Linked DNA regions of Homo sapiens: region 2 is linked to region 1. Evidence: fine-mapped expression QTL. A gene starts in region 1. The other region holds a variant in brackets. All regions are shown on one strand. Distances are from middle to middle.

Region 1 (15,898 bases):
TAAATCCACTTTTTTTCCCTCACATAGGCCTTGTTTGAAGACAATAATTACATGGCCTGAGGCCCTCTCTTTGAGAATACTTCATTTTTACTCAAAGAGGTCTTACCTAGTATGTAAACCTCATTTGTTTGATCCATTTAACTTCATCATTTGGGAGATATAATGGTTCTCAGACTTGTAATATTTTGACGGCATGAAACAAATAATATTTGATTTGTTACATCTGAAGGATTATAAGGCTAATGAGTAAGAATAACTCGATGCTCCACTTCAGGTGATTCGTATGCTATAGGAGTTAGCAATCTAGTTCTTGTCTTTCGTTTGAATAAATTAACAAATATTCCTAGAGTATCTACTGATTACAAGGCCTGAGCCAGACGGACCTTGTTAGGGACTCTTGAACAAGCAGAACTAAAAGCATGATAGACAAAAGGTAGAAATCTAATTAAAAGCAGTTGAGATGATGACACAAGATCAATTGAAATAATCTGCAAAGCCCAGAATGAAGTTAGACACTTTTCATTTTAGTCTGCTGACAAAATTAAGCAATATAACATCACAAAATATTAGATTTGTTAATTATATATTTGTCTATTTTATGCTTAAGTGTATCTACATTAAATGTTAGATTAAATGCAATGTGGTGTTAGTATTAGACCCTGGAGTAAAGTCATAGGTGAAAAACCAGTGAAAGCAAATAGTCTGTAGTTTAGTTAATATTCTAGCAATATTAATTTTTTTAGTTTTGAAAAATGGTTATAAAAGATGTTAACATTCGGGCAAACTGGATAAAGATTACATGGAATCTCTTTTGGCTATTTTTGTAACTTCTGTAAATTAAAAAGTACTTCAAAATAAAATTATTTAAAATTGTAATTAGAACAACTCTATATTAAATTTTTTCATAACCCTCATTATTGTGTGTGTGTGTGTATATATGTATATATGTATATATGTGTATATATGTATATATGTATATATGTGTATATATGTATATATGTATATATGTGTATATATGCATATATATGTATATATGTGTATATATGTATATATGTATATATGTATATGTATGTATATATGTATGTGTGTATATATATGGTTTTGTTTTGTTTTTTTTTTTTTTTTTTTTGAGACAGAGTCTCTCTCTGTCGCCCAGGCTGAAGTGTAGTGGCGCTATCTCGGCTCACTGCAAGCTCCGCCTCCCAGGTTCACGCCATTCTCCTGCCTCAGCCTCCTGAGTAGCTGGGACTACAGGCGCCCACTATCACGCCCGGCTAATTTTTTGTATTTTTAGTAGAGACGAGGTTTCACCGTGTTAGCCAGGATGGTCTCCATCTCCTGACCTCGTGATCCACCCGCCTCGGCCTCCCAAAATGCTGGGATTACAGGCGTGAGCCACTGCGCCTGGCCTGTTTTAAAATATTTTTAAAACCAAATTGTGAGTCATGTCGATGGCTTATTTGGGACTTTATTCAAGACTCTTTAGTGCCACTGACTTTAATGGTTTGCCCATACATCAAACTGAGCAACCCTAAGGAGGCATTCTTTCCTCTTCATGGCAGAAGTAGTAGTATTTTCCAACAATGACTTCTGCCTTAGGTCTGAATAGTGTCCTAAACATTTTGCCTCATGTTCATTTTAGCTGCACATTTTAAAGGGGACAGTTTCCAGTTACACAATGTTTCTTTTACTATCTGGTAATGAGAGTTATAATAAATACTTCAGGCCCTGACCACATTTTGTCAGAGGTAAATATTATGCTTTCTTTTTTGTTTACAGTACACAATGATCCTCATCATTTTGAGATATTTCTATATCAATCTCCCATTTTTTTTTTTTTAGTTGCTGTGATCATTTCCCCATGTATATGTTATGTGAAAGAAAAGTATTTGAGATTGTGTTCACTAACAAGAAATAGGCATTGGAAAATAAGTACATTGGGCTCAACACTATTCTGACACAATAGGAAAACCTAGTAAGATAGTAATCTTAATGGCAGCAAATGTCATTAAATTAAAAACATCTACACAGCAACAACCTAATGTTCATATTAATGAGAGGTAGGAACACTGATAGTAATCAACATCTGTTGCTGGTGTTAATATTCAACATTAAAGTAATCCACAGAGGGAAAATACAACTACTGCAGGTTAAATGACAACTACAGCTTTTCTGATTGGTGGTTGTAAGCAGAAGGTCCAGTAGCAGCAAAGTAATCAAGACGGGGTTTTCACATCATGTCTTTCCAAATAATCACTGTCCTAAGTGAGGAGTAGAAGACACTGTCACATTGAGGTATTAGTCAGTTTTCACAGTGCCATAAAGAACTGCGCAGACTGGGTAATTTATAAAGGAAAGAGGCTTAATTGATTCACAGTTCTACATGGCTGGGGAGGCCTTAGAAAACTTATAATCATGGCAAAAGGGGAAGCGGAAACAAGCACCTTCTTCACATGGCAAGCAGGAGAGAGAAGAAAGAAGGAGGAACTTCCAAACACTTATAAAACCGTCAGCTCTTGTGGGAACTCCCTATCAGGAGAGCGGCAGGAGAGAAACAGCCCTGCATGATCCAATCACTTCCCTACTTCCACAATGGGGATTACAAATGAAGATGAGATTTGGGTGGCGACACAGAGCCATATCGTATCAAAGTATGAAAGGTTTCTAGGATTTATTAGTTTGGGTTGTTAAGAGTTATACGGCTGGCAACGCTGTGCAGGGCCGTTTACTTCAGCTGCATACATTTTTTCGCTGCATGAGGGGTTGGGGAGAGCTACTCTCTTCTGGTCCTGAAAAGTAATCAAGAGAGAGAGGGATTTTTCACATCGTGTCTTAATTCTCACAAAGGCACGCTTCAAATGACGGATAAAAACCCGTCTTCCCGACTCCAAGAAGCTACTTTCTGACAGTTGTAAACAAGCTTCTTTCTCTTACTGCACAGGAGAGTCCTCTTACAGATCTCAGATCCTGACATTATTTTCAATAAAACTTTGTGCGGCCGCTAGTTTTAAATTCATGGTCTCCTGGAAGCTTTGGCTGGAGACTACTCAGCTCGTCACTGAACTAACGGCTTTTGGGGGTTCTTTTTTCCCAGTTGAGTTTCTGTGTCTTTTACACGTTTGGTTTTATGGTCCGTTGGAGGTTTTTTCACGCTGAGGGTGAAGATTCTTAGTTTCCTCAATTAGCATAAAAGCTGCTCCAAGGCTGCTGAGTCTTCAGTTCCATTCCATTCAAAATGTTAATTCCTGAGACACGCAACCTACGCCCTACTGTCCTTTGTCCCACGGCTTCTCGAGATTATCTCTGTGTTTTAATAGATAAAACGCCTTCTCTCCCCACCCGTGGGGTGCAAAGCACAGCGCATGGGGCTGGTGGCGCCCGAGAGCATCACACAACGCATGCGCCAGTCCGCAGGTGTGGGCGGAGGAGAAATCGCGTCGGCGGCAGGGGATGACGTAAAAAGGCCGCGCTGTACTGCGGCTTGTGCCGCTTCCGCAAGAAGGTTTCCTGGCCTGTTGCAGCCATGGTGCATTGCAGTTGCGTGTTGTTCAGAAAGGTCCGTGCGGGTCCCCTCAGCCTGGTCCCCTTAGCGCTGACAGCTCTGGTTCTTCTTTGCTCCCCTGTCTCTCCACTACTGTCTTCGTGGCGGCCTTTTCCTTGCTTGGTTTTCCCATAGACTTCTCCGCCCCTCCTGTAGTGGCGCTTTGTCAGTAAGCGGTGACAGTGGTGTGTGTACCTGGCGTGGTTTGGACGGTTGTTTGGGGGCAGGGGCAGGGTTTGAAGTTCTTTAGAGACATAGTGTGCACGTGGTATGAGGAACTGGGATACCTGCCTGCTGTGGCCCAAATGTTGTGGTGGTTTTTTTTCCTTTAATGTCCACAGCCTGTTTTTATATATTTCTCCTTGAGTGCGCTGTTTAAGGTTTTTCTAATGGATTTTTATGAAGACACGAAAGCGTGTAATTGATGTGCCTTCCTGCAGAACATTTAGGTCGATTTTTGTGTGGTGTCGGTCTTAAGAATCGTTTCCGTAAAAATTTACAACTGCTTTGAATTTTTATTTTTTAAATCTTATCCTATCAGTAATGCTTTTTGAAACGTTGCCTGCGTCATATTTGGCCATTACTTTATTTCTAACGACCAGAGTAAAATACTCCTTTTAAGTAAGGCTCCTAAACCCCTGAATCTGATTAATCTAGAGCAGGAAAAAAGTGTTACATATTTAATGGAACTGTAGAAACTCTCCTCGAGTATATCAGAATGGTCAATATTTCAACTTTCTTGAAAAAAAAATCCCATTTGTTTTTTATAATAGCTATCCTAAATGACTAGAGATGTGGATTATGAATTTAAGAAATTACTCCTTAAGTTATTTTGATTTTAATAGCCTAAGAGGTTAATACGTAAGTCCTTTACCTACAAGAAGTTCTTGATTTAGTGAAGGAAACAGGTAAACACTAAATGCAGCGTGAGATTTATAAAGGTGTAATAATAGAGATATAATCAAATTGCTGGGAGAGCCAGCAAAGTCAGAGAATTGATTAGAGGAATTTGGAAAGACGTTAGAAAATATGACGTTTAGGTGGATTTATGATAGGAAAAACAAATGACATTCTAAGTAGAGGAAAAGCATGAGCAGAATGGCATGTAGAAATGGCGGTATTTCATGTAGTACAGAGCAAAGAGGAAGAGAGGAAGGGTTGAGCAAGTGAAAAGGATACAGGAAGGAACTAGGCATGGTAGGTGAGCCTATTGTTCTTGCTACTTGGGAGGCTGAGGTGGGAGGATCCCTTAAGGCCAGGAGTTCAAGACCAGTCTGGGCAACATAGCAAGACCCCATCTTTAAAACAGTCGGGGTGGTGTGGTGCCTGTAGTCCCAGCCATTTGGGAGGCTGAAGTGGGAGAATTGCTTGAGCCCAGGAGTTTGAGGCTGCAGCAATGATAGTGCTATGATAGTGCCACGGCACTCGAGCCCAGGCACCAGAACCAGACCCTGTTTCAAAAAAAAGAAAATAAAAGATACCAGAAGGGTATTTTAGTAGCTTTGGATATACAGTTGACCCTTCAAGAACATGGGGGTTAGAGATGCCCCCGCCACAGCTGAAAATCTTCATGTAACTTTCAACTCCCCCCACAAAACAACTACTAATAATCTGTTGGCTGGAAGCCTCACTGATAACATAAGCCGTCAGTTGACACATATAAAATATATATATAGTATATACTGTATTCTTAAATTAAGCTAGAGAAAAGAAACAGTTACTAAGAAAGTCAGAAAGAAGGGAAAATATATTTACTGTTCATTAAATGGAAGTGAATTGTAAAGGTCTTCATCCTTATAGTCTTCATGTTGAATAGACTGAGGAGGAAGAGGAGGAGTTGGTCTTGCTCTCTTGGGTGGCAGAGGCAGAAGGGGTGGGGGTGGAGGAGGTGGAAGGGGAGGCAAGAGAGGCAGACACACTATGTGTAACTTTATGGAAGTACATCATAATTTCTGTCATGCTTTTGCTTTTCTCTTTCCCCCAAAAAAATGTTTCTATAGGGTACCAATACCTCTTCCACCATTTGCTTTGGTTTCAGTGCCTCTTCACAGAAGGGTCCATGTCATAAAAGAAGTCAAAAGCAGTCCTGAACAATAGGAGCTCTTCTGCCAGATTATCTAATGTTCGTTTTTCTGGTAGTTTATTCTGTGTTTTCTTCCTTGTTATCTGGCACTGGATCTGAAGCACTCATCAAGCTGTCTTCTGTTAATTCCTCTGGTTTGGTGGCTGTTAGCTCTTGAGTTTCTTCAAGATCCATATCTTGAAGTCCTTTACCCACTTTCCCGCCGTTTTTGGCATATTCACAGCCTCTTTCATGATTTCCTTGATTGGCTCTTTTGTAAATCCTGTGAAATTATAACACAACACAACACCTGGACAAAGTTTTCTCCAGCACGAACTTACTGTTTGGGGCTTATGGCTTTCATGGCTTTTTCAATAATAATGGCATCTTCAATTATGTAAACTTCAGATTTTCCTGAAGTTTTCTCTATTAGTGTTCTTTTCCATGGTTGACAATCCTTTTCGTAGAAAATCATGTTTAATGAGCCTTAAAGGTCCTTGCGACCCCGTGATCTAGAGGCTGATTTACAGACATTGTGTTTGGGGGCAAGGACACCACTTCAGTGCCTTTGATGTTGAACTCATGGGGTTCTGGGTAGCGGGGAGGTGGGGCACTGTCCATTAGCAGAGGAACTTTACAAGTCAGTCTCGTATTGGGAAGGTACTTCCTGACTTCAGGGAGAAAGCATCCATGGAACCAATCCAGAGAAAAGGTTTTTGTTCTCTAGGCCTTCTTATCCAACAAAGACTGGCAGCTGATGTTTATCTTTCCCTTTCAAGATTGAGGGGTTAGCAGCTTTATAGATAAGGACAGTCCTGATTACAAACACAACTGCATTTGCACAATACAGTAGGGTTAGCCTATCCCTTCCTGGCTTAAATCCTGGTGCTCCCTTCTCTTCCTTACTAATGTCTTTTGTAGCATGTTTTCCAGAATAGGGTACTTTCATCAGCATTAACAACCTGATTTGGGAGATATTCTTTCGTCTCAGTGATTTTCTTAATGGCATCTGGGAACTCATCTGCTGCCTCTTAGTTGGCAGAACCTGCTTCACCTGTTATCTTGATATTTCTAAAGCCAAAGCCAAACCTATTTCTTCTTTTTTTTTTTTAAATTATACTTTAAGTTCTAGGGTACATGTACACAGCGTGCAGGTTTGTTACATAGGTATACATGTGCCATGTTGGTTTGCTGCACCCATTAACTTGTCATTTACATTGGGTATTTCTCCTAATGTTATCTCTCACCCAGCCCCCAACCCCATGACAGGTCCCAGTGTGTGATGTTCCCCCCGTGTCCCAAGTGTTCTCATTGTTCAGTTCCCACCTATGAGTGAGAACATGTGGTGTTTGGTTTTCTGTCCTTGTGATAGTTTGGTCAGAATGATGGTTTCCAGCTGCATCCATGTCACTCATCCTTTTTATGGCTGCATAGTATTCCATCGTGTATATGTGCCACATTTTCTTAATCCAGTCTATCATTGATGGACATTTGGGTTGGTTCCAAGTCTTTGCTGTTGTGAATAGTGCCACAATAAACATACGTGTGCATGTGTCTTTATAGTGGCATGATTTTTAATCCTTTGGGTATATATCCAGTAATGGGATGGCTGGGTCAAATGGTATTTCTAGTTCTAGATTCTTGAGGAATCTAGAACTGTCTTCCACAGTCAAACCTCCTTCTAAAATTATCAAATCATCCTTTGCTGGCAATTAATTCTTTAGCTTTAGATCCTTCACATTCCTTTTGCTTTTAAGTTGTCATATGGTAACCTTACTTTTTCTTTTATTGTATTAGTCTATGTTTTTAAAATAGGAATCCTGCATCTACATAAAAGTTGCCTTTTTAATACAAGATAAAAAGTTAATTCACAAAAAGTGCAAGGTTTTCACACCTTTTGGCATAGCTGCTGCAGTGGCTTCATGAATTTTTGTCTTTTTTTACACTGATTCTTATTCTGGATTCATTTATCTTGAGATAGCAGGCCATCGCAGCTACAGATTTTAATCTGTGGTAGATATCAAGCAATTCATCTTTTTATCGTAGTGTCATGACTTTACTTCTTGGGAGCACTGCCAGCATCACTAGTGGCACTTTGTATGGGTTCCATGGTGGTGTTCAAGGTTTACAGTGTAGCGCTGAACATGATGAAAAATGCAAGAGAACTGTGAGAGATTACTTTTTACTGACTTATAAAATGTACTGGCAAGATGAACTGCTCATGGGGAGACGATTAGCATCACATGGCCTTTTAAGTGGCAACTTGGGACACTTGAGATCCCGGGATAGTTACAGGAGGTAACTACGAAATTATTACAGTATTCCACGATGTACTACAGTTAATTTTATGCAGTTATGATTTAATACTGCATTTTTACATTTGCTTACATTTCTCTTGACTGCAAATGCTGCCATGTAAGATCTGTAAGTGTGTGTGTAAGTTTTGATAAATTTTAAGTTTTTATAATAGATGTGTGGCCAGGTGCAGTAGCTCATGCCTGTAATTCCAGCACTTTGGGAGGCCAAGGCAAGAGGATTGTTTGTGGCCAGGAGTTTGAGACCAGCCTGGGCAACATAGCAAAACCCCATCTCTAGTTTTTAAAAATTAAGATAGATATGTGTATATTTTATGGAAGTAAATGACAAAATAGATTAGCATCTATATATTTTTTGCACTCATAACACACAGCTTTTCTTAATTTTTTCAATATTTCCAATCTATTTGCTTTGTAAGTTTTTTCAAATTGTTGCAAAGCTCAAAAAATTTTTCTAATATATTTATTGAAAAATATCTGTATATAAGTGGACACACGCAGCTCAAACCAGTGTTGTTCAAGGGTCAACTGTAGTACTAAGAATTTTTTACTTTATTTCATAAGCATTTTTTTTTTTGAGACGGAGTCTCGCTCTGTCGCCCAGGCTAGAGTGCAGTGGCTTGATCTCGGCCCACTGCAAGCTCTGCCTCCCAGGTTCATGCCATTCTCCTGCCTCAGCCTGCAGAGTAGCTGGGACTACAGGCGCCCGCCACCACGCCTGGCTAGTTTTTTTGTATTTTTAGTAGAGACAGGGTTTCTCCATGTTAGCCAGGATGGTCTCGATCTCCTGAACTCGTGATCCGCCCACCTTGGCCTCCCAGAGTGCTGGGATTACAGGCATGAGCCACTGCACTTGGCTCATAAGCATTTTTTTAATGCATGGTTTTTGAGTAAAGGAGAAACATGATTAGAGATCAGATCAATTTCAGAAAAATAGTTCAGGCAACAAGTTGGAGAATGCAATAAGGAAAAAATGCCTAAACACTGAAAGGAGCTCATGTGGTGCAGGTACTAGGGCAGTGGTACTGGAGAGAAGAGAGTAGGGCTTTGGGAAAAGAAGCAGGTGTAGTCTGAAAGACTTCCATTTGTGTAGTCTCAATGAATATGTAAACCATGGTTCTGTTACTTTAGAGAACATTGGAGGAACAGATTTTACCTGGGGAAGAGTTTGGTTTTGTTATGTTAACATTTATTTTTGAGGTGGCTATTATTCAACTGATATGTAAGAACAAGTTTCATATTGGGGAATTTCAAATATAAGTTAAATACACATTCTGCTCACATTTGCTTTATACTATTAAAAGCTTTCATCCTGGTGGAAATGTCTGACAGATTGGACATAGAAAATATCTCACCTAGGTGATGGTTATTGGTACAAGCAGAAATTACCCAGGGGAGAAAGTCTAGAATGAAAACAGGGCCAAGTCAGAAACCCTCAGGATAGGTGGGACAATAATTGATAACTGAAAAAACTAAAAGGGACTTAAGAGAGATAATCAAATGGGAAAGGGGGTCAGATCGGAGATGTGGAGGTGAGCTAAGAAAATGTTATAGAATTGGCATGTGAAAAGCTATTAACGACTTTTTTAGAAGAAGTTTTAGTGGAAGAAAGAACTAGAAAAAGGTTCTAAGGTGATACACTTTTGGTATACAAATATTCTTTCTCTTTTTTTTTTAAGTATGGAAATTTCATCGATAAGCTAAGACTCTTCACCAGGGGAGGATCCGGTGGAATGGGTTATCCTCGTTTAGGTGGAGAAGGTGGAAAAGGTGGTGATGTCTGGGTTGTAGCCCAGAACAGAATGACTTTAAAACAACTTAAAGACAGGTATCCTCGGAAACGGTTTGTGGCTGGAGTAGGAGCAAACAGCAAGTAAGTAATTACTGAATGACTTAAATTTTAGAAAATCAAACCCTTCTGGAAATTTTTTTTTTAGTTACAAAATAAAAACTTAATTGTTAATTTGAAGTAAATTATTTCCTGTATTTATAACCAAGCAAAAGCCTAAAATGTCTCAACTCATAAAAGACTGATACTAAAGAATATTTCAGAGTTTTAAAACTTTCTGTCCGTTTCTTTTCCCAATGTCTATCTGTATTCTTTTTGCACTTCCCCTGTAGAAACCGATAATTATCTGAATTCCCACTGTTTTCTTCTAAAATTATCTTTGACAACCTTTTAGAAAACTTTCAGTCTTAACCATGCTACTCTACCCCACCACCATTAGAAGGCAAGATAACCACTATTAACCTTTTCTTGACTTTTCTAAGACTTTTCTGTGTGTTTACACAAATGCAATTATGTGCCTAAAAGTTTAGAATACAAAAATGAGAGTACAGTATTTTACAATCTGCTATTTTTACTTTTTTTCACATGTCAAAATTATTCAGAATACCTGCATAATAAATAACTATTTTGTCATTTGTCTATTTAGGTTATTGTTGATTTTTTTTTCCGATTATAACCACAGTGCAGCATTCTGTGTAGATACTATTTTACATGTTTGTTCAATTATTATTTTGATAAATTCCCAGAAGTAGAATTACTAAAACATTTGTACTAATTTTTTCTTTTATGAGCAGTTTAAGAGTAGCCAGATTTGCCTTCTATAATGTAAGTACTCTCATTTGAGGTTAGTTTTTTAAAAGCTTTGCTATTTGGTGGATTTTCTTTTTTTTTTTATAGATTCATTTTTTCTTTTTTTTTTGAGACAGAGTCTCATTCTGTTGCCTAGGTTGAGTGTAGTGGGCACTATCATAGCTCACTGCAGCCTCTACCTTTCAGGCTGAAGTGATCCTCCCACCTCTGCCTCCCAAGTAGCTGAGACTACGGGTATGTGCCACCATGCCCAGCTAATTTTTAAATTTTTCTTTTTTTGTAGAAATGGGGTCGTGCTATGGTGTTCAGGCTTGTCTTGAACTCCTGGACTCAAGAGATCCTCCTGCCTCCGCCTCCCAAAGTGCTGAGATTACAGGCGTGAGCCACCACGCCTGGCTTTTTCTACCCTATTTGTATTGTAGCAATAATCTCTTCATTTCATGGTTGCAATATTTTAGTTTCGGGTTAAAATGACCTTTGGTGGTTAGCTTAGTAACTTAAATCATTACTTAATGCCATTTTAGTGGGATATAATAGTCTAAAATGCAAAGAAATAATTAGGGATAATTTTAGTTTTTTTAAACCCCGTGTTTGACCATTTAACATCTGCGTTAACCAGAGAATTGATTGCTACTCTTCTTTGTAAACCATTTTGTGTGTATGTGTGTGTGTGTATATATACACACACACATACATACATATATATACTTTTTTTTTGGTAGAATTAGTGCACTGAAAGGCTCCAAAGGAAAAGACTGTGAAATCCCTGTGCCTGTGGGTATTTCAGTAACTGATGAAAATGGTAAAATTATAGGTGAGTGTACTATAACTCCAAAAGTTGTAAAAATGTGCACGTTTTCTAAAATGAAACAATGGAATAGCTTCTCTTGAGTTTCAGAAGATTTTTTAACTAACAATTTTAGCTACTATTCTATAAGAGAGCATTTTTAAAACTTATAAAAGTTAAATTGACTGCTAGATTTAAGATTGTTTTAAAGATGTTACAGTTCTTACTTGGTCTTAAAATATATAACTAGGCTCTTTTCAATTGTTTACTGAAGTGTTTTTCTGGGGTCAAACTTTTAATAGATTTGTAAATTGGAATTTCCTGGACTGTTTTTCTGAAAGAACAATATTACATTAATGATTCTACTTATTAATTATAGATTTGTAATTGAGAATTTCCTGGCATGTATTTTTGAAAGTAAAATATTACATTAATGATTTCACTTACTAATCTATAGATTTGTAATTTTGCATTTCTTTGCCTGTATTTCTGAAAGAAATATATTGCATTAGTGATTTCACTTATTAATCTTTGCTGTAAGTATTTCTCTCCCTCTTTTTAAGGAGAACTCAATAAAGAAAATGACAGAATTTTGGTAGCTCAAGGAGGTCTTGGTGGTAAATTACTTACAAATTTCTTACCATTGAAAGGCCAGAAACGAATAATTCACCTTGATCTAAAACTTATAGCTGATGTAGGCCTAGTAGGGTAAGTATCGTTCATATTTTTATTATTATACTTTCAGAGAGAGAGTTCTTGAATAGAAAATAAATGTAAATGGTAATTTGGGGCCATAATTATTTCTAATTTATGGAATTTGTGTGTTGTGTATGTACTTGGAAAATATGCTGCTAAATATTATTTTCAAATTGCCAACACAGAGTTTCATAGTTATTGCTTATTTATAAAATTAAGACCAGAGCAATTGAATAGATCAGTGGGAATGTTAGAGAATGCATAAAGAAAGAAAAATCAATCAAATGCAATATTACAAGATGGTTAAATAATGTTACCAGATATTAATAATAAATCCAAACAAACCGTATTATTATTAAAAATATATAGAAGGAAATAAACAGGGAAAAATGGTTGACATAACTCTTTTGGGTCTTAATAGAGACATTAAAGTATCGTTAATCAAATGGCTAAAGACCAGTACAGACAATCTCAATCCTCAGACTTACGCACTGTTGCCGCCAAATTGAATCCTGCTATGACTGTATATCCTTCTTGCCTCTGCTTAGGATCTATCTAGTCTCAGCAATGTAGGCCTCACAAGAGTGTCCTCTTCCACCAGCCTCCATTCTTTCATTAAATAATGCTGTTTAGCTGTGGGGTTTGCAGTGCAGCTGCCCACTGGAAGGGGATAGATAGTAAGATACAGAATACATAAAGGAAGAGAAAACTTCAATTTGCATTTGCTCTCTCTCCCCCATCCCCCCTCCCTCCTATCCTCTCCCTCTGGCCCTATCACAGTATTACACAGTTATTCAGATGGAAAGCTTAAGGACAAGATAAGGAAAACTGCCTTATTACTGTCCTACTCCAAATTCCTAGTTCTATTTTTTGCTTCCCCATAGCTTCTTTCTAAGTTCTTTTCATGTTCCTCTTCAGTCATCTCACTGCTTCTTTACCAGACTCTTAAGTCTGTATCCCTCGTCTTTTGCCCTGCCTGACCAGCCACTAGAGCTTACCACCATTGGTTTAGGGTTCACAGAGGCCCCATTCCTGCTAAAATTATAACAAGGAAAGATGTGATCCTGGCTTGCCATTTACATTTATTTTTTTCAATAAAGCACAGTTACAAGAGTTATTAGATGTAAGTTCTATAATCCTCTATATTTTTAGGAACATTATGGGCTTAATAGGGTCTTATGGACAAGACTGGCAGTCCAGCCAATCACAGTTGCATTTTGCATAAACATGTGTTTCAAGTTCTGAAGAGACAACTTTACAGTCTAAGAGGAGCCTAGCACGGCTTAGTCATAAAAGTGGAGTGGCATGGAGGACTCAGGTTAGACTATTTAGGTTAGGATCTCAAATCCTCTGGAGGCTGGCCAGCTGGTCTTGGGTAAATTACACAGCCTCTCTAAGCCTTTGTTTTCTCTTCTTTTTTTCTTTTCTTTTCTCTCATTCTTCCTTCACTATAGTTTTTTGCTTTTCACCACGTCATTTGTTTTCTCATCTTTAATAGTGTATGGAGATAAGTCTTTCCTTAAAATGTTGGTGGGTAAGATAATGCATTTACAGCAGAATACATGCTTTGCATTTTTGTACGTTCAATGAATTGTAGCTGCTATCTTCATCATCATTATATTGCCAACTTACTGGAAAACTGCATATAATGAAATACTAGGCTTTTCAGAAGTAGGTTTGAAATTTGTCTGTAATTAAAGCATCAAGATTCTTAAGCATATCAAACAAGAATGGGGGAAAAAGATTTTTAAGTGGAATGTTTAACATATTTTCTAGTGTTTTTAAATTAGGCAACTATTCTTGAAGAGTTACTACTATGAATACTAGCATAAGTAGATATCCTTTTAGCTGGTTTTGGAAATGGACTGAATCACAGAAGAAAGTTATTGTACAACTAACAGATTTGTGCTGCTGTTGTCAGATCTGATCTTTGCATAGGTTGGATTTTAGCCTGTAAAATTTTCACTGGGTACTTTTCAAGAAAAATTTCAAATATCTGTTATTCAGTCATTAGCATCATCTTTCTATTCATACTTTGATCTTCTTGGAAATAGTTGCTTGCATTATGTGCTCAATCATTATGAAAATATGAGGATGTTGGAAACAAGCAAGTCCAGCTAGTGATAATTATGGATAAAAACAGCTGCAATTTGCTTTTCAAAAGCTATAAGAACCTGGATGAAACAGGGTATGAAAAAACTATATGTTCCAGGAGAAACAAGTCATTAAGAAACCTCACATAATTTTATTTTAAATTCATGACAGAAAGATTTTTTTAATGAGGGAAATTGTTGAAATACCTCCAGCTAATACGCTTTTATAAAATTCCAAATTAATATTTGCAGAATATTCCACCATTATTCCAAATGAAAGTTTGGCAGAGTTTTTGAAGTACCGTCTTCAAATTTGAATAAGAACTCTGTGAAGGCGGGAATCATTTTGTCTCATTGCTCAGTATGTTGCCTGATACGAAGTCAGTGCTCAATAAATATTTGTTGGATAAATTTAATGAAAATATATGAATGAGATTTAGCAATGAATGTTTTAAGTAACCCCCATTCCTAGTACTGTCTTTCATACATGGTGGGCCTTTCTTGAGGGAAATTTAGCAGTATAATCAAAGCCTTTAAAATGAGCATGTATTTTATCTGGTATTTCTTCATGTAGACATTTATTCCAAGAAAGAAATCAAAGATGTGTGCAAAGAGAAGTCTTAGCCAGAACAATCAGGCAAGAGAAAAAAAGGGCATTCAAATTGGAAAGAAGGAAGTCAAACTATCTGTTTGCCCACCATATGATCTTATACCTTGAAAACCCTAGAGACTCCTTCAAAAGACTCCTAGATTTGATAAATGAATTCAGTATACTCTCAGGTTACAAAATCAGTATACACAAATCAATAGCACTGCTATACACCAACAACAACCAAGCTGAGAATTAAATCAAGAACTCAATCCCTTTTACAATAGCTACAAAAAATAAAATACCAAAGAATATACGTAACCAAGGTCGAGAAAGATCTCTACAAGGAGAACTACAGAACACTGCTGAAAGAAATCATAGATGACACAAACAAATGGAAATACATCCAAAGCAATCCTAAGCAAAATGAACAAATCTAGAGGAATCATATTACCTGACTTCAAATTATATTACAAGGTTATAGTAACCAAAACAGCATGGTATTGACAGAGAAGTAGGTACTTAGACCAATGGAACAGAATAGAGAACCCAGAAATAAAACCAAATACTTAAGACCAACTGATCGTCAACAAAGCACACAAAAACATAAACTGGGGAAAGGATACCCTATTCAAAAAATGATGCTGAGAAAATTGGATATCCAAATGTAGAATAATGAAACTGCATTCATATCTCTCATTATATACGAAAATTAAGATAGATTAAAGATTTTAATCTAAGACCTGAAATTATAAAAATTCTACAACACTTAGGAAAAACCCTTCTGGACATTGGCCTAGACAAAGAATCTGTGACTAAGATCTCAAACCAAATGCAACAAAAATACATAAGTGGGACCTAATTAAAGTAAAAGTCTTGTGCACAGCAAAAGAAAGAATCAACAGAGTAAACAGCCTACAGAATGGGAGAAAGTATTTGCAAACTACGCATCTAACAGAGGACTAATATACTGAGTCTGCAAGGAACTCAGATCAGCAAGGAAAAAACAATTCCGTTAAAAAGTGGACAAATGACATGGACATTTCTCAAAAGAAGATATGCATACAAATGGCCAATACGCATATAAGAAAATGTTCAACATCACTAATACTCAGGGAAATGCATATTAAAACCACAATGATTTACCAACTTAGCTAGAATGGTCATTATGGAAAAGTCAAAAAACAATACGTGCTGACATAGATGTGGGGAAAAG
Region 2 (16,839 bases), 52 kb after region 1:
AAGAAAACAGTGAAAAGCCATGAAGATCACCTTTTGGGAGTAAAATATGAGGGGAAAAAATCACCTAGAAGATATAGAAAATTACCTCCAAAGACCAAATCTAAGAATTATTGGTGTTCAAGAGTGAGTTGAGCAAGAGCAGGGATAGAAAACTTATTCAAAGAAATAATAACAAAACTAGAGAAAGAGATAAATACCCAGGTACCGGAAGGTTAGGGAACACCAAACAGATTCAATACAAAGATTACCACAAGGCATTAATAATCAAACTCTCCAAGGTCAAGGACAAAGAGAATCCTAAAAGCAGCAAAATAAAACAAGCAAATAACATAAAGGAGTTCCAGTTCATCTGGCAACAGACTTCTCAACAAACCATATAGGCCAGGAGGGAGTGCAATGACATTTTCAAAGTGCTGAAAGAAAAAAAGCCTGCCATCCAAGTATACTGGAACCAGAAGTAATCCTTCAAATATGAAGGAGATATATGTCCCTTCCCACACTACCACCAAATCCATCTTACAAGAAATGCTGCCGGGCGCGGTGGCTCACGCCTGTAATCCCAGCACTTTGGGAGGCCGAGGCCGGTGGATCACGAGGTCAGGAGATCGAGACCATCCTGGCTAACATGGTGAAACCCCGTCTCTACTAAAAATACAAAAAATTAGCCGGGCATGGTGGCGGGCACCTGTAGTCCCAGCTACTCGGGAGGCTGAGGTAGGAGAATGGCGTGAACCCGGGAGGCGGAGCTTGCAGTGAGCCAAGATCGTGCCACTGCACTCCAGTCTGGGCTACAGAGTGAGACTCCGTCTCAAAAAAAAAAAAAAAAAAAAAAAGAAATGCTGAAGGAAGTTCTGCAAAAAACACTAACCATGCAGAAAAAAAATCCAACACATTTGAAGATATAAAATCCGCTGGTAAAATTAAGTACACAGATAAATCCAGAATATGCTAGTATTGTAATTATGGTGTGCAATTTATTTATAACTCTAGTATAAAGCGCAAAAGTCAACTCTATCAAAAACAATAATAGCTACAGCAACCTGTTAAGAGGTAGGTAATATAAAAATAGGTAAATTGAGATAACTAAAAGTCAAAATATGTGGGACATGGAGTTAAAGTGTACAAGTTTTTTTTCACTTTTTTTGCAATCTAAGTTGTCATCTCCTTAAAATAACATTTTTTGTAAGCCTCATGGTAATCTCACACAACAATCTATGATAGATTTATTAAAAATGAAAAACAACTAATTAAAACATACAATGAGAGAAAATCATTTAACCATAAAGGAAGACAGGAAGAAAGAAAGAGAGGACTTACAAAACAACCAGAAAACAAGCAAAAAAAAATGGCAGTACTTATCAAATAATAACTCTGAATGTAAATAGATTCAATTTTCCAATGAAAAGGCATAGAGGGGCTGAATGGATATGAAACAAAGTATATGCTGCCACTTCACCTATGAGGATACACATGGTGAAAGTGATGGGGTGGAAAAAGATATTCCATGTAGCTGGAAACCAAAAAAGAACAGGAGTAGCTATTCTTAAATCAGATAAAATTGACTACAAATAAAAGACTGAAAAGAGACAAAGAAGGTCACTATATAATGATAAAGAGATCAATTCAGCAAGAGGATATAACATTACAAATATCTGCACCCAACACCGGAGGTCCCAAATATATAAAGCAAACATTAATAGATCTAAAGGGAGAAATGGACAACAATACAATAATAGTAGGGGACTGTAACTCCCCACTCTCAGTAATGAACAGATCATCCAGACAGAAAATCATCGAAGCAACACTGGAGTGAAACTGCAAATTAGGCCGAAAAATGTATCTGATGAAGCCATATTGGCTGCCCTGGAGCCTCCAGAACTGAAAAAGAGCTGCAAGTGTGTGCTGCTATGAACATCTTTCCAGAGCCTTTCCTGCACAGCTGGTATTGGCATCATACCAAAAGCAGTGTTTATCAAACTAGAGATTAAAAATCAAAATTCATTTTTGCGATAATGACAAATGCCCTGGACTTACACACATGCACTCGTGTGAGACAAGGCCCATAAGTATCCCCACCTTCCCTCTCCCAGTACTAGTTAATTTTGAGTAATTGTGTATTGTCAGAAAAGTGATCAGTATTAGTTTTTGTTTTGTTGTTCCAAAAAAAATTTTATTTTTTAATTTAATTTTTTGTTTAAAAGCAAGGCATGCTGTGTTGACTCTGTAACAGACTAATTTGAATTGTTAAAACTGCTCCCTGGTTCTATTCTGGAGAGTAATCTGGGACATTTTAGTGAGTTTTTCCCCCTCTTTTTTGGGAGGGGGAGTATGGGTGGGGTTTGATTTTTAGTCTTGTTTATTTTAATTAACCAATGGACAGCCCTTAAGGGGAGGAGGACAGATTGATTCCACATTCCACTTTTTAGATCTCATTTAGAAAACATGTTCTCAATCTGGTGCTCTTAGGAAGAAGTATAGTAAATGCTTCATTTAATAATGTGCTACTTTTTGAAAGTTGCCTTTTCTCTTTACCCTTGAATAGATCCAGTATCTGATGATACTCATGAAAGTGCGTGGAACCTGTCTTGTCCCTCCTCTTTTCTAGTATGCACTATATATGTGACTGTGACTTTCAAAGACATTTATTTGCCATTTCCTGATTTGGGGGAAAATTAATTCCTAACTTCTTTCACTAATGAAGAAAAGTATTGCACATTGGAAATACACTAACTGGATTGAATATGTAATTTTTTTTTTTTTGATATGGAGTCTCGCTCTGTTGCCAGGCTGGAGTGCAGTGGCACAATCTTGGCTCACTGCAACCTCCACCTCCCGGGTTCAAGCAATTTTCCTGCCTCAGCCTCCCCAGTAGCTGAGACTACAGGTGCATGCCACCATGCCCGGCTAATTTTTGTATTTTTAGTAGAGATGGGGTTTCACCATGTTGGCCAGGATGGTCTCGATCTCTTGACCTCATGATCCGCCTGCCTCGGCCTCCCAGAATATGTATTTTAAAATAAATTTTTCCCTGTCAGTCATTGTCTTATATCCTTAGCATAGATTTGCAACTCAGTAGTATATTTTATCCCTAGAATGAAGCTGGAGACCTGGTATGTACAGGAAATATGAGAGGTGGTGCTAGAAGACAGACATCTATGGAATGATCCATATCCTTTCAAGTTATGGGAATGAAGACCTACTTCATTAAGAAGCTGGGGGTGAAGTGAGGGTGAGGAGAACACTTAACAACATTGGGACCAGTCAGGGAATCCCCTTATTTCTGTTTCACATATGAGGAACCCTAGAGCAGCTAGATGAGGCTCTCTAGTTTAATAAAATCATGGAAAGAGTCTTATGAAGGCTCTTCATAAGTGTTAACAGGGATTTATCAGCTTATTTTTGTTGCAGTTCCCAATTTCTAAAAATGTTTAGGTAATCTTTTCCTTTCCCCAATCCTAATTCTTATAGATTCACTAGTGTTGAACCAATGCTTTCTCATGTCTCAACTCTATATATGCATTCTTTTCAGATGTATTACATTAAAAAAGCCCTACACACACACACACACACACACACACACACACACACACACACACGACTGAACCATGAAGAAATAGCCTCAATAAACCAATAATGAGTAAAAAAAAAAGTCTCCCATCAATAAATAAAAAATAAGCCCAGGACCTGATGGCTTCACTGCTGAATTCTACTCAACATTTCAAGAACTAACACCAATTCTACTAAAACTCTTCAAAAAGATTGAAGACGAGAGAAAACATCCAAACCCATTTTATGAAGCCAGAATTACCATGATACCAAAACCAGACAAGGACAGAATGAAACAAGAAAACTATAGGCCGATATCACTAATGAACATACATGTAAAAATTCTCAACAAATTTTGAGATACTAGCAAGCCAAATTCAACAATATGTTAAAGACTGTGTGCAGTGGCTCACGCCTGTAATCCCAGCACTTTGGGAGGCTGAGGCAGGAAGACCGCTTGAGGTCAGGAGTTCAAGACTAGCCTGGCCAACATGGCGAAAACCCATCTCTACTAAAATACAAAAATCAGATGTGCATGGTGGCGCATGCCTGTAATCCCAGCTACTCAGGAGGCTAAGGCAGGAGAACCGCTTGAACCAGGGAGGTGGAGGTTGCAATGAGCCAAGATCATGCCACTGCACTCCAGCCTGGATGACAGAGCAAGACTCTTTCTCAAACAAAACATTATAAAGATCATTCACCATAATCAAGTGAGATTCATTACAGGGATGCAAGGATGGTTCAACATATGCAAATCAATAAATGTGATATATCACATTAACAGAACCAAGAACAAAAACAATATGATTATTTAAATAGATGCTAAACAAGCACTTGATAAAATCCACATCGCTTTTTGATAAAAAAAAAACCCTCATCAAATTGGGTATAGAAGGAACATACCTCAAAATAATAAAGGCCATCTATGACAAACCCATAGCTAACATTATACTGAACAGGGAAATACTGAAGGCCTTTTCTCTAAGATCTAGAACATGACAAGGATTCCCACTTTCACCACTTTTATTCAATATAGTACTGGAAGTCCTAGCCAGAGCAATTACGTAAAAGAAAGAAAGAGCATCTAAATTGGAAAGGAAGAAGTCGAATTAGCCTTGTTTACAGATGACATGATGTTTTACTTAGAAAAATCCACCAAAAAACTATTAGAACTGATAAACAAATTTAGTAAAGATGCAAGATACAAAATTAACATACAAAAATCAGTAGCATGTATATATGCCAAAAGCAAACAATTGAAAAATAAATCAAGAATGAAATTTTATTTATAATAGCTCCAAAGAATATAAAACACCTAGCAATTAATTTAACCAAAGATGTGAAAGATCCACACAAGGAAGACTATAAAACACTGATGAAAGAAATTGAAGAGGACACACAAAAAATGGAAAGATATTCCATGTTCATGGATTGAAAAATTAATATTGTGAGCATGACACTAACCTTGGCTATTGACAGATTCAGTGCAATCCCTTTCAAAATACTAATGACATTTTTCACAGAAATTTTAAAAAATTCTAAAATATATATGAAACCACGAAAGACCCTAAATAGCCAAAGCAATCCTGAGCAAAAAGACCGCAGCTGGAGATATCACACTACCTGACTTCAAAATTTACTATAAAGGCATAGTAATCAACACAGCATGGTACTGGCTTAAAAAACAGACACAGAGGCCAATGGAACAGAATAAAGAATGCAGATATAAACCCATGCATTTACAGCCAGTTCATCTTTGACAAAGGCACCAAGAACATACAATGGGGAAAGGACAGTCTCTTCAATAAATGATGCCAGAAAATTGGATATCCATATGTTGAAGAATGAAACTAGACCTCTATCTCTCACAATACACAAAAATCAAATATAAATGGATTAAAGACTTAAACCTAAAACCTGAAACTATGAAACTACTAGAAGAAAACATTGGAGAAACCCTCCAGGACATTGTCTGGGCAAGGATTTTTTGTGTAAGACCTTAAAAGCACAAGCAATGAAAGCAAAAATAAATAGGATTATATCAAGCTAAAAAGCTCTGCACAGGAAAAGAAACAATCAACAAAGTGAAGAGACAACACACAGAATGGGAAAAAATATTTGTGATCTACCTATCTGACAAGGGATTAATAACGAGAACATATAAGGAGCTCAAACAATAGCAAACACACATACACACACACAAATAACCTGATTAAAATATGGGCAAAAGATCTGAATAGACATTTCTCAAAAGAAGACATGCAAATGGCCAACAGGTATATGAAAAAATGCTCAACATCACTACTCATTAGAGAAATGCAAATCAAAACTACAATATCCCTCCCCAGTTAAAATGACTTTTATCTAAAAGGCAATAATAGATGCTGGCAAGGATGAGGCAAAAGGGAAACTCTTGTACACTGTTGATGGGGATGCAAATTAGTACAGCCATTGTGGAGAATAGTATAGAGGTTTCCAAAAAACCTAAAAATAGTACTACCATATAATCCAGCAGTTTCACTACTGGGTGTATATCCAAAAGAAAGGAAATCAATATATTGGAAAAACAATACACTTATGTATATTGTAGCACTATTCACAATGGTCAAAATATGAAATCAACCTAAATGCCCATCAGTGGATGAATGGATAAAGAAAATGTGCTATATTTACACGATGGAACATTATTCAACTATTACAAAAGAATGAAATCCTGTCTTTTGCAGCAACATGGATGGAACTAGAAGTCATTATGTTACGTGAAATAAGCCAAGCACAGAAAGACAAATAACACATGTTTTCACTCATGTGGGACATAAAAAAGTGAATCTCATGAAAATAGAGAGTAGGCTGGTGGTCATCAGAGACCGGGAAGGGTAGGGTGGAAGAGGGGTTTGAAAAGAAGTTGATTGATGGGTACAAATATATGGTTTGATAGAAGAACTGAGAACTAATGTTATATTAGTATGGTGACTATAGTTTACAGTAATGTGTTGTATATCTCAAAATAGCTAGAAGAGAATTCAAATGGTTTTAGCATAAAGCAAAGACAAATATTTAAGGTGATGAATATCCCAAGTACACTGATTTGATCTTTACAAATTATATGAATGTATTATATGATCATATCTACTTCTAAACACTATGAACATCTATCACACATTAGTAAAAAAGGGGAAAAACCCCTGCTGACATCCTGATTTTAGCACAGTGAGACCTGTGTCAGATTTTTGACCTCCAGAATTGTAAGATAATAAATTTATTGTGTTTTAAGCCTTTGAATTTGTGGTAATTTGTCACAGCAGCAATAGAAATCTAACACAGTGACCAAATGGGAATCTCTGTAGAATTTTGGTGGTGAATGGTACACTGCAGTGAATTTAAGATTTGACTTTCTCCTTGAAGAATCTCTAATGAGAAAAAGAGGAAAGACAGGATTGTTAATTGCAGATCTAAATTCTTATCTAAAGTATTTTTGAGAATTATATTCCAATTATCTAACTATTGAACTCCAACAGGGTATTTAAGTATTCTGTTCCATCTTTGCTATGCCAGAGGCAGGCATTTTAGACCCCAGCTTGAACAGTAAGTCTAGGAATAGGGTTGTCTTTCCTTCCTTTTTGTGCTGTGATTTTTTAAAATTATTGTAATCAATTGCAAGTACCTCCCAGCTAAAGTCCTCTAATCAGGCAGTATTCATCAGTGATTGGGAAATAAGTTATAAGATGATTTTGTACATAGTTATTTGATTCAATTCAGCTTTATAGATGAGAGAACTGAAGTTCAGAGGAAATAAGTGATTATCGTTTGTCACATTGCTATTATCCATCTGCTATTGCCAGAGCTGGCCTGGAGCCCAGAAATCTTTTCACCACCCAATGCTATCTTTCTTCCTCATTATTACATTTCCCAGTCTGGCTTTGGGATCGGATTGCTTCTGGCCTTAGATAACCTTATCCATCCTCTAAAGCAGTATCACACATAAGAAGGAGGTAGCAGTGGACTGATAGTAGCCTCTCTACCCTCCCTTTTTAAAAAGTCTCTGACAAATAGTCTCATTGTTACTAGAGCAACGCAAAATGGAAAATGCTAATAGCAAACATATAGTCCTTATTATGCGTCAGATACTGTTGTAACTGTCTCTGTAGTAATTCATTTAATCCTCATCACAATTTTCTGATGTAGATATACTGTTACAGATGAGACCTTGAGGCACAAAGGGGTTACCTTACTTGCCAAGGTTATACTTACTTGGGATGGGTGCCATCCTTTTGTATAAACTATGATACTTTTTCTTCTTTTTATTTTGAAAAATTTCTAAGATACAGAGAATTTGAAAGAATAGTACAAGAGACACCCACAAACATATTCTTCATGAATCCAACAATTATACACTTTGCCACACTTTATATCCATTTGTGTGTGTGTATGTGTGTGTGTATGTGTGATCATTTCGAAGTAGTAGGCATCACAACACTTCAGCATCCTTTATTTTTTAAAAAATCAGATCATTGCTATTTAGGACTTTGGAATCTTTTAGTTTAATTCAGATATTCATTCACTAATGCAGGACTTCACATTGGAGAGAAGCCAACAGAGAAAGGGACAGGACAGTAGAAATTGTGTGGGAGAGTAAAATTAGTTCAAATATCTAATAGCTAGCTATACTGTACTTTAGCTATATTAGGTCCCTCAGTTTTCAAGACAACAGTATGATGTGGGTGATCTTATCCCCATTTTTCCAGATAACCTCCAGATGTAGAGATAACTTTCCCAGGGCCACCCAATCAATACACAGCAAAGCCCCATACAAATCTGGGCTGTTTGGTTCTAGACTTTGAGCTCTTTTTCTACTTTTTGCCTAGATAAACACTTTGAGGGGAAAAAAAATCCAGATTTAAGAATTTTTGCTAACCTTCCTACGGGCAAGTCACCTTCAAGTCACCTGGGTACTTAGGTATCCAACTCAAAACTACTTTTAGTTTTGTTTCGTTTTGCCTTTTTTTTTTCTTTAACCGATAACCCAATTCTAGACGGAACATAAGGTGCAAGAGAAATCCGGGGAGGTGGAGGCAGAGAAAGGGAAGGGCAGGAGGTGGTCGCAGGATGTTGCCTGCGGCTGGCGGCCCAGTGGATTCTGGGAATTGTAGTCCCAGCCATCCAGGGCATTGCCGTTCAGGGCCACGGGAAAACCTGACTGCGCTCCCAGAAGCCTCCGGTGTACCTCGCTGGGAACGCACTTCCTGGGACGCTGAGAGGGAGACGCTCCAAGAGGCTCCTCAGTGTGGGCGAGTAAAATGCCCTGCGTGTGAGAAGCAGGTAGGTGTGGTCAAGATGTTCCGATTTCTGGGTCTTTTGCATAAGTAACTGAGGATTTTATGTAAAAT[G/A]GCTAAATCCAGGAGAATCAGGAGCGTTGGAAAACGCTGACCACATCTGTGGATGTGAAAATTGAGTAGGTATTTGGTAAGGCTTTAAAAAATTATTTTGTACACAGGAGTATGGAAATGTCGAGGTGTGTTGCCGGAGCCGCCAAGGACTGGGAGCTTTGCTGGCGCGGGTTTGTGGGGGAGCCCAAGCTGCTATTTTTGAATAACCAGCTGATGCTGGTTGCGTAATGATGACCTGCTTGCGGTTCAAACCCACTCAGTGTTGCAGGGATGGGCTAGCTCTGAGAGCGTTAACAGTCACTGTTGCGGTCTCTCTCCATTGGCTCTAACTAGTAGGGCGTTTTCTTCCTTCTGCCAGGTCTGGGTCTACCACACACAGGGCTCTTCGAAAAGAGGGAGGAGGAGAGGAGGCGGAGGGGGGAGGAGGGGGGCGGAGGGGGATGCGGATTGCTCTGGAAGCTTGGTTTGCTTTCCTGTAAGTTCTGTGCACCCGGCCTTGTAAGGGGCCCATAGCCACGTTAGGGAAAGGTCAGACTTGGTGACCTCACTTAAAATGATTGCTCAAGGATTCTATTGTGCGTTATTAATTGTAAAACGATTTCCTCTGACTTTGGAGTGTGCAATTATGATTGATACCAACCCAAGAAACACATTTGGGGCGGGGGAGGGGTTGGGGGGGACTTGACTGAAATCTCCGAGCAGCCAGTTGCAGAGAGCATTCTACATAATGATCGTAATAGGGCTAGTGATGAACGCCTCAATCCAGGAAACTCTCAGGCGCACATAATAATGAGTTTCCATTCTCATCCTACCTGTTTGAGATAAATGGTATTTGAAGAGGAAGTGGCTAATGTTTAAAGTAGATATATAGAAGCATCTTTAAGTATCAGGTTGAGCCATTGGTGGAACTATTTTTTTTTTAAGCATTCTGGTTGCAAATTTCAGGATGCAGAATTCAGATCAACTTTGTCTGGTCTTGTTGTCAGTGTCCTTTTTTAAAAATGTAAAAGAAAATTTCTTTTACTTCCAAGACAACTGCACAGTCTTTCACCACCTTCCTTATCCTTTCACCGTAGTCATGAAAATGATCTAAAACATTCATTAAATATCAATCATATATTCCCAAGACAGCAAAGTGTTTTTCATCCTCATTTCTCCTATATTCTCAAGTCACAAGATGAGTTAATTTTTTTCTTCTATTTCTACGTATTTTTCTATATTCTATATATTTCTCATATATAATGCATGAATTAAGGAATAAACAGCCTTTTTATTTTTTTTTTTTTATTATTTGAGACAGATCATTGCTATGTCATCCAGGCTGGAGTGCAGTGGCATGATCATGACTCACTGTGTCCTCAAACTCCTGGGCTCAAGTGATCCTTCCATGTCAGCCTCCCAAGAAACTGGGACAACACGTGTGCACCATCACACCTGGCTAATTATTATTATTATTATTTTTTGAGCCAGAATCTCTCTCTGTCACCAACACTGGAGTGCAGTGGTGCAATCTCAGCTCACGGTAACCTCCACCTCCCAGGTTCAAGCGGTTCTTGTGCCTTAACCTCCCACATGGCTGGGACTATAGGCATGAGCCACCATGCCCAGCTAATTTTTGTATTTTTAGGAGAGATGGGGTTTTGCCATGTTGGCCAGGCTGGTCTTGAACTCGGGCTCAAGTGATCATCCCGCCTCAGCTTCCCAAAGTGTTGGGATTACAGGTGTAAGCCACTGTGCCCCTGCTAAACTGCCTTTTTAAAAAACTTACTGTCTGCCCTTTTTAGTATAACATTTCATTGGTTTTAGGTGATTACTAATCATTTCTTCTAATCCATGGGAATTCAAGCAGGGTTTTTAGAGAAGTACTATGTTAATTTGGAGTATTTTTCCTATTTCTTTAGGCTCAGATTATTGCTACTCTGTATTCAGATCTTCATGTGTCTCTTCTAAGCTGAATAAAGCTGTTTTGGAACTGTCAGGTACCTCAAAGCGTAAGTACGTCCTTTAATTATATCTTATTTCCCTCCCTCCTGCTACCACATCTGCCAACAATGACTCTTTTTTTTTCTCTTGTTCAACAAAATAGAGGTATAGGACAGACCTCTCTTGTGAGTACAATGACTGATGACTTACAGTTTCTAAGAAAACCCAAATTATAGGTAGAAGGAACTCTCAATGTTACCATCAAGAATTAAGTTAGGGCTGGGCATGGTGGCTCAGCCCTGTAACCCTAGCGCTTTGAGAGGCTGAGGTGGAAGGATCCCTTGAGCCCAGGAGTTTGAGACCATCCTGGGCAACATAGCGAGATCCTGACTGTATGAGAAAATTTTAAAAAATTAGCCAGTTGTGGTGGTACATGCCTATAGTCCCAGCTACTCTGGAAGCTGAGGTGGGAGGATTGCTTGAGCCTCGGAGGTCGAGGCTGCAGTGAGCCATGATTGCACCACTGTGCTCCAGCCTGGGTGAGAAAGCGAGACCCTGTCTCAAAAAAATAGAAGCTAGCTGCTATTAGACATATGTACTCTCGTAACTCTTGTAACTATAACTCAGAATTGTGCCTGGAAAAAATAGTACAGGGTCTATTGGATACATGACTTCCTAAAGCTCTTAGCCACTGTTCCTGCTCCAGCCTTCTTTAAATTCTATTCAAAACCACAGAAAATATATAATTTGAAAATATTTTTATTCGTAATTATGTCTCTGATAACATTTAATTGTGTATCAAATTTTATCTACTTTTCTGAGTCACGGTGGAACAGAGAGTCAAATGACAAATGTGAAGTGGTTATTTGAAATAGAGTCTCTATTTGATTTGGTCAGTATCTCCAAAGAGAATGTTCTGTCCTTCTTGTTATATGACTATAACCATCTGTAGTCATTTGCTGAGGGTCCAGAAGAAAAGTATGTTTCTAGCTGAAAAAAGTAAATAAGCCTGCTAATAATCATTACTGACTTACATTTCTGACCATATTCTGGTTTACAAAGGACTTTGCTATTCATGATTTTACTACTTTGTGGGACACTTTACAGATGAAAAATTGGAGGTTCAGAGGACATAAGTGACTTGTCCAGTTTGTAAATGATAGGTTATGAATGTTATTCAGGTCTTTGGTCTCCTGGACAACAATACCAAGCAGCCTCCTGGATGGAAACAACAAACCACTTATGTGTATGTATGACCTAGCTCAAAGCTCTCATCCAGCTAGTACTCATGACTGCTTGACAGATTTGTTAAAGTGTTCTTAGCCTTGCACGTTTTCCACAGTCCCTAATTAGGGATTTTCACATGGCAAAAAGATGTTTTTTTTTCTCCATTAAAAAAACTATATATTGTTTAGCTTTAATAAATATTAATTTGATATATTAACCACTCTTAAGAGAAGTATGTCTAATTCATGACATACCTGTTAAGTTGAAAACAGAAAAATCAATACCGGAACAGTGGACTTTTTGTTTTTGAAATGGAGTCTCGGGGTTTCACCATATTGGCCAGGCTAGTCTCAAACTCCTGACCTCGTGATCCACCCACCTCGGCCTCCCAAAGTGCTGGGATTACAGGCATGAGCCACCACGCCGCGCCAGGAATAATTGACTTTCAAACCATTTGTTGAAGTTAGACAGTGTTGCTAAACCTAGATATATATTTCTAGAATCATAGTCTGCATGTAGGTACCTAAGGATGGCCTTGTCTTTGCTAATCACAGGTTTCTGGGGTAAGAAAATGAATGTTGTTTTGTAAAATGGGAGTCTTTTGGCCAAAAAGGAGAAAGCAGGGGCACAGTCTAGAAACAGTCTGGATGTATCAGAACACAGGGTGGTGTGAATTCTCTCAAATGAAGTGAATGGAACTGAGACTAAATTTCTGTCTGTATTCTGACCAGAGTTATACAGAACCTCCATTTGTTTGTTCATTCATTCAGCAAATAATCGAGTGCCTTTTATGTGCCAGTATAGGGAACAGTGAACAAAACAAAGGGATCTCTGTCCCTGGAATTCACAGTCTGATGGGAAAGAAAACTACACTGAACAAGGAGTTATAAGAATGATCACTGCTACAGAAGAAAAAGTGCAAAAGTGCTACCACAGCATATAACCAGGGACAGGGGGAGGTTTAGGACAAGCCTCCCTGGACACTAGAAGAATGAGTAAATATTAGCCAAGCAAAGAATAGGTTGGAATTAAGAAAGTTCTAGGAGAAAGACCATGAGGGAAGGCCCTTAACCAAATCAGAAAGTGGAAAATTTGGGAAGTCAAAAGAAATGTGGTTTGGCTGCATAGACTGTAGTGTGTGGGGTGGGAGAGTGGCACATACGAAGGTTGAGAATTTGGTAGGAATCAGGTGGTGTAAGCTATGGGGAGGAGTTGAAACTTTAGAGATTTTATTCTGTGGGAAATGGGAACTTATTGAATGGTAAGAAATGGAATGGCGGATGAGGTTTGCATTTGAAAAAAATTATTGTGGATTAAAACTAATTGACACAGCACAAGAGTAGAGGTCTTTTTACCCTTGCAAGTATGAACAAATCCTAATCGGGAAGTCAGCATTATCTTTGTTTTAAAACATCAAACATATTCTTTCCCCAAACTATCCTATAAAATTTTACTTCAGGCATGGTGGCTTACTTTTGTAATCCCAGCCCTTTGAAAGGTGGAGGTGGGGGGATTGCTTGAGCCCAAGAGTTCAAGACCAGCCTGGGCAACACAGCAAGACCCCATCTCTAGGGAAAACTTAAAAATTAGTCTGGCATGGTGGCATGCACCTGTTATCCCAGCTACTCAGGAGGCTGAGGCAGGAGGATTACTTGAGCCCAGGATCTCAGCTCACTGAAATCTAGTGAGCTGTGATCATGCCCTGCACTCCAGCTTGGGTGATAGAGTAAGACCCTGTCTTAAAAGAAATTACTTTATCTCTCTGGTGGGATATATGACTTATCAAATCATAGGCATTTGAAATTAAGAACAGGGCATACAAGGTGAAGTAGCCAAAAGAAGCTAGACATTAATTCCAGTATCAGGCCAAAATTTAGCTTAAGAATTAAGGTTAATAGTACTTCCCTTCTGAAAAAGTGCCGTGGTATCCTTGTTGACTCTGTATAGATAGGCCTCTGTCCATCCCTGAGATCTGAGCTAAGAATGCTTCATCAAAGGCAATTTCAGAGAACCAATATAATATTTGTATTGATTTGATGCAGAATATAGTTAAAAGCACTTACTACTGAAATATATATTGTCGTACCTCTCTTCATTAATGTCATTTGATAGTCTATAGGCTAAGAATTATAGGAATTTATTTATTTTTCTTAATAATTAATTTTTCTTTTTTTTGTAGAGATGGGGTCTCGCTATGTTGCCCAATCTGGTCTCAAACTCCTGGGCTCAAGCTATCCTCCCACCGCAGCCTCCCCAAGTGCTGGAATTACAGGCATGAGCCACAGCACCTGGCCTGGAATTTATTAATAATGGAGTTATACATCCTGATCTTGTTTCTCACTCCATTTACATTTCAGGAATCAGTGTTACAGGGCAGTTTGATTGGAGAAATCTCAATTACATTGAAATTCCAATTATTTCTATACTACTTTTGTTTTTTGTTCCTGTTTGTTTGTTTGTTTGTTTGTTTTGAGACAGAGTCTCGTGCTCTGTCACCCAGACTGGAGTGCAGTGGTGTGATCTGGCTCACTGCAACCTCCACCTCCTGGGTTCAAGCGATTCTCCTGCCTCAGCCTCTTGAGTAGCAGGGATTACAGGCACGTGCCACCATGCCTGGCTAGTTTTTGTATTTTTAGTAGAGATGGGGTTTCACCATGTTGACCAGGCTGGTCTGAAACTCCTGACCTCAAGTGATCTACCAGCCTTGGCCTCCCAAAGTGCTGGGATTTCAGGCATGAGCCAATTCGCCCAGCCAGTATATTACTTCTGAAAGCAAGAAGGAATTGTGATTGCATTAGGACTTTGAGTGGGTTATCTGAAGACTTCTGAAGCTTGAAAGAAACGAGGGAACCTTTTTCCTATGTCTTCACAACTTTAATCAAATCCTTATTCTCCTTCATTTCTCAGTCTTTAACTCCTGCCTGATAAATTTTTATGAACAGGTACCTTATTCACTTTGCTTAACACCTAACAATAATCACTTGATACGTAGTAATTATACAGTTGATTCACCACCAACACTTTGAGTTTACATAAGACAGCCGTTTCTTTCCACAAGTCTCTATAAACACATTGGGAGCAAGGTCCAGTTATCAGTGGTCTTGGTGTCTTTCCAGGGCCTAACAGAGTGTTTTGCATATGCTAGACACTCAGCATGATGTAAGTACTTGCTGAATGAATGATTGCTTCTTAGTAATAGCTACTTCCTTGTACAGTTCTTCATTACCAGTGGCCCACCTTTGTGAGTTACTGGGGTCTTTGTACAGAGCCCAATACTCGTTTATTCAAATAATCCTAGAATCACTTGTGTGCCAGGCACACAAGTTGTATGGGGGAGATAGACAGATGAATAAGCAAAGACCACCAGAGAGCTGTATCCTAGAGCTTGGCATTTCTAGTAGCTTTTTCCAGTGCAAACATTCTCAAATCTGTACTAGTTTCCATTGCTGTACTGAGGTGTTTGGTTGCCACAATTAAGCAAGACAGCTTTTTCCCAATTTGCTTGAAAAAAATACTGTAATTAGTCTCTCCCTTTCATAAAATTTTCTTAAGAAATTGCTACTTCTGATAATACTGACAGAAGGTAACATAATAAATACTAAACTAATACTAATGGAAAAACTTAGAACTAACCATGTTTAACTTGAGGGCTTTAAAAATGGTTACTTGTGCTTAAACTCTGATTTTTATATTGTACATTTATATATGCTATTTGTGTATATTTGAATATATGTATGTACACATAGGCATTTTTTTGGTTAGTAAAATTATTCTGGCTGGGCGCAGTTGCTCATGACTATAATCCCAGCTTGTAATTTCAGCACTTTTGGAGGCCAAGGCAGCAAGATTGCTTGAGGCCAGGAGTTCGAGACCAGCCTGGCCAACATGGTGAAACCATGTCTCTAAAAGAAAGAAAAGAAGAAAGGGAATAAGAATTGTGGGGGTGGAAGGAGGAGGGCTGGTTCACACCTGTAATCTCAGTACTTTGGGAGGCTGACGCTGGTGGATTGCTTGAGCCCAGGAGTTCGAGACCAGCCTAGGCAACATGAGAAAACCCCGTCTCTACAAAAAATACAAAAATTAGCTGAACATAGTGACGTGTGCTTATGGTCCCAGCTACTCAGGAGGCTGAGGTGGGAGGATCGCTTGAGCCTGGAAGGTCAAGGCTGCAGTGAGCCATGATTGTGTCATTGCACTCTAGCCTGGGCAACAGAGTAAGACTTGTTTCAAAAAAAAAAGAAAGAAAAAGAAAAAATTATTCCTATATTATATGACTAGATTAAATATACAAATAACATTGTTTTCTAAAGAACATTGTGCCCTCCCACTGGAATTCATGCAACAATCACATTCTAAGCCAGCTTCCTAGCATTTTGGTCATAATTGTCTTTCTGATCCTGAAAGCTTGGAAACACAACTTCACCATCCCAGCAGATGTTTGATTCTGCAAAGGTTGATGGAACTGTATTCAGAAATAAAAATTATTCTCAACCTTGCCCCTTCATCATGCTCTGAACAAAAAAGTAAACCTTACTGAAGTAGTCTGCTCTATTGCCTCATAGTAGGCATTATAGAAGGCAGAGAAAATACATTTGAGTCCTGCTTTGAGAGTGAATATCAGACCCTTGAGGAAATTAAAGCTGAATAAGATGCAAGCTTTTTATAGTTTGCCATATACAGAAAAAGAACATGGCCTTTTAATTTGGAATGAAAGGCCTGGCGACTGTTTTTCTTATAATAGCATTAATAGAAATAG

What was found. PIP is the estimated chance that this variant, and not a neighbour inherited with it, causes the effect.
Region 2: its variant is fine-mapped to the expression of GTPBP10 in whole blood (INTERVAL, PIP above 0.99). The same link has a PIP of 0.9 or more in T cells, aorta, blood mononuclear cells, breast, cerebellar hemisphere and esophagus mucosa.

Annotation. Positions count from the first base shown.
Region 1 is chr7:90,343,219-90,359,116 of GRCh38, forward strand. GTPBP10 (GTP binding protein 10) reads left to right here and starts at 3,498. Exons shown (of 10, transcript NM_033107.4): 1 at 3,498-3,556; 2 at 9,598-9,791; 3 at 11,240-11,331; 4 at 11,868-12,012. The coding sequence starts at 3,524. LOC107986715 (a long non-coding RNA gene) reads right to left here and starts at 15,820. Exons shown (of 4, transcript XR_001744961.2): 1 at 12,489-15,820. It overlaps LOC101927446 (a long non-coding RNA gene), which reads left to right. Exons shown (of 6, transcript NR_110085.1): 6 at 1-876. RefSeq lists enhancers at 2,964-3,103, 3,314-3,743.
Region 2 is chr7:90,394,685-90,411,523 of GRCh38, forward strand. It overlaps CLDN12 (claudin 12), which reads left to right and starts at 8,777. Exons shown (of 4, transcript NM_001185072.3): 1 at 8,777-8,865; 2 at 10,835-10,924. It also overlaps the pseudogene LOC101409256. RefSeq lists an enhancer at 8,957-9,482. The variant G/A (reference allele first, on the strand shown) is at 8,934.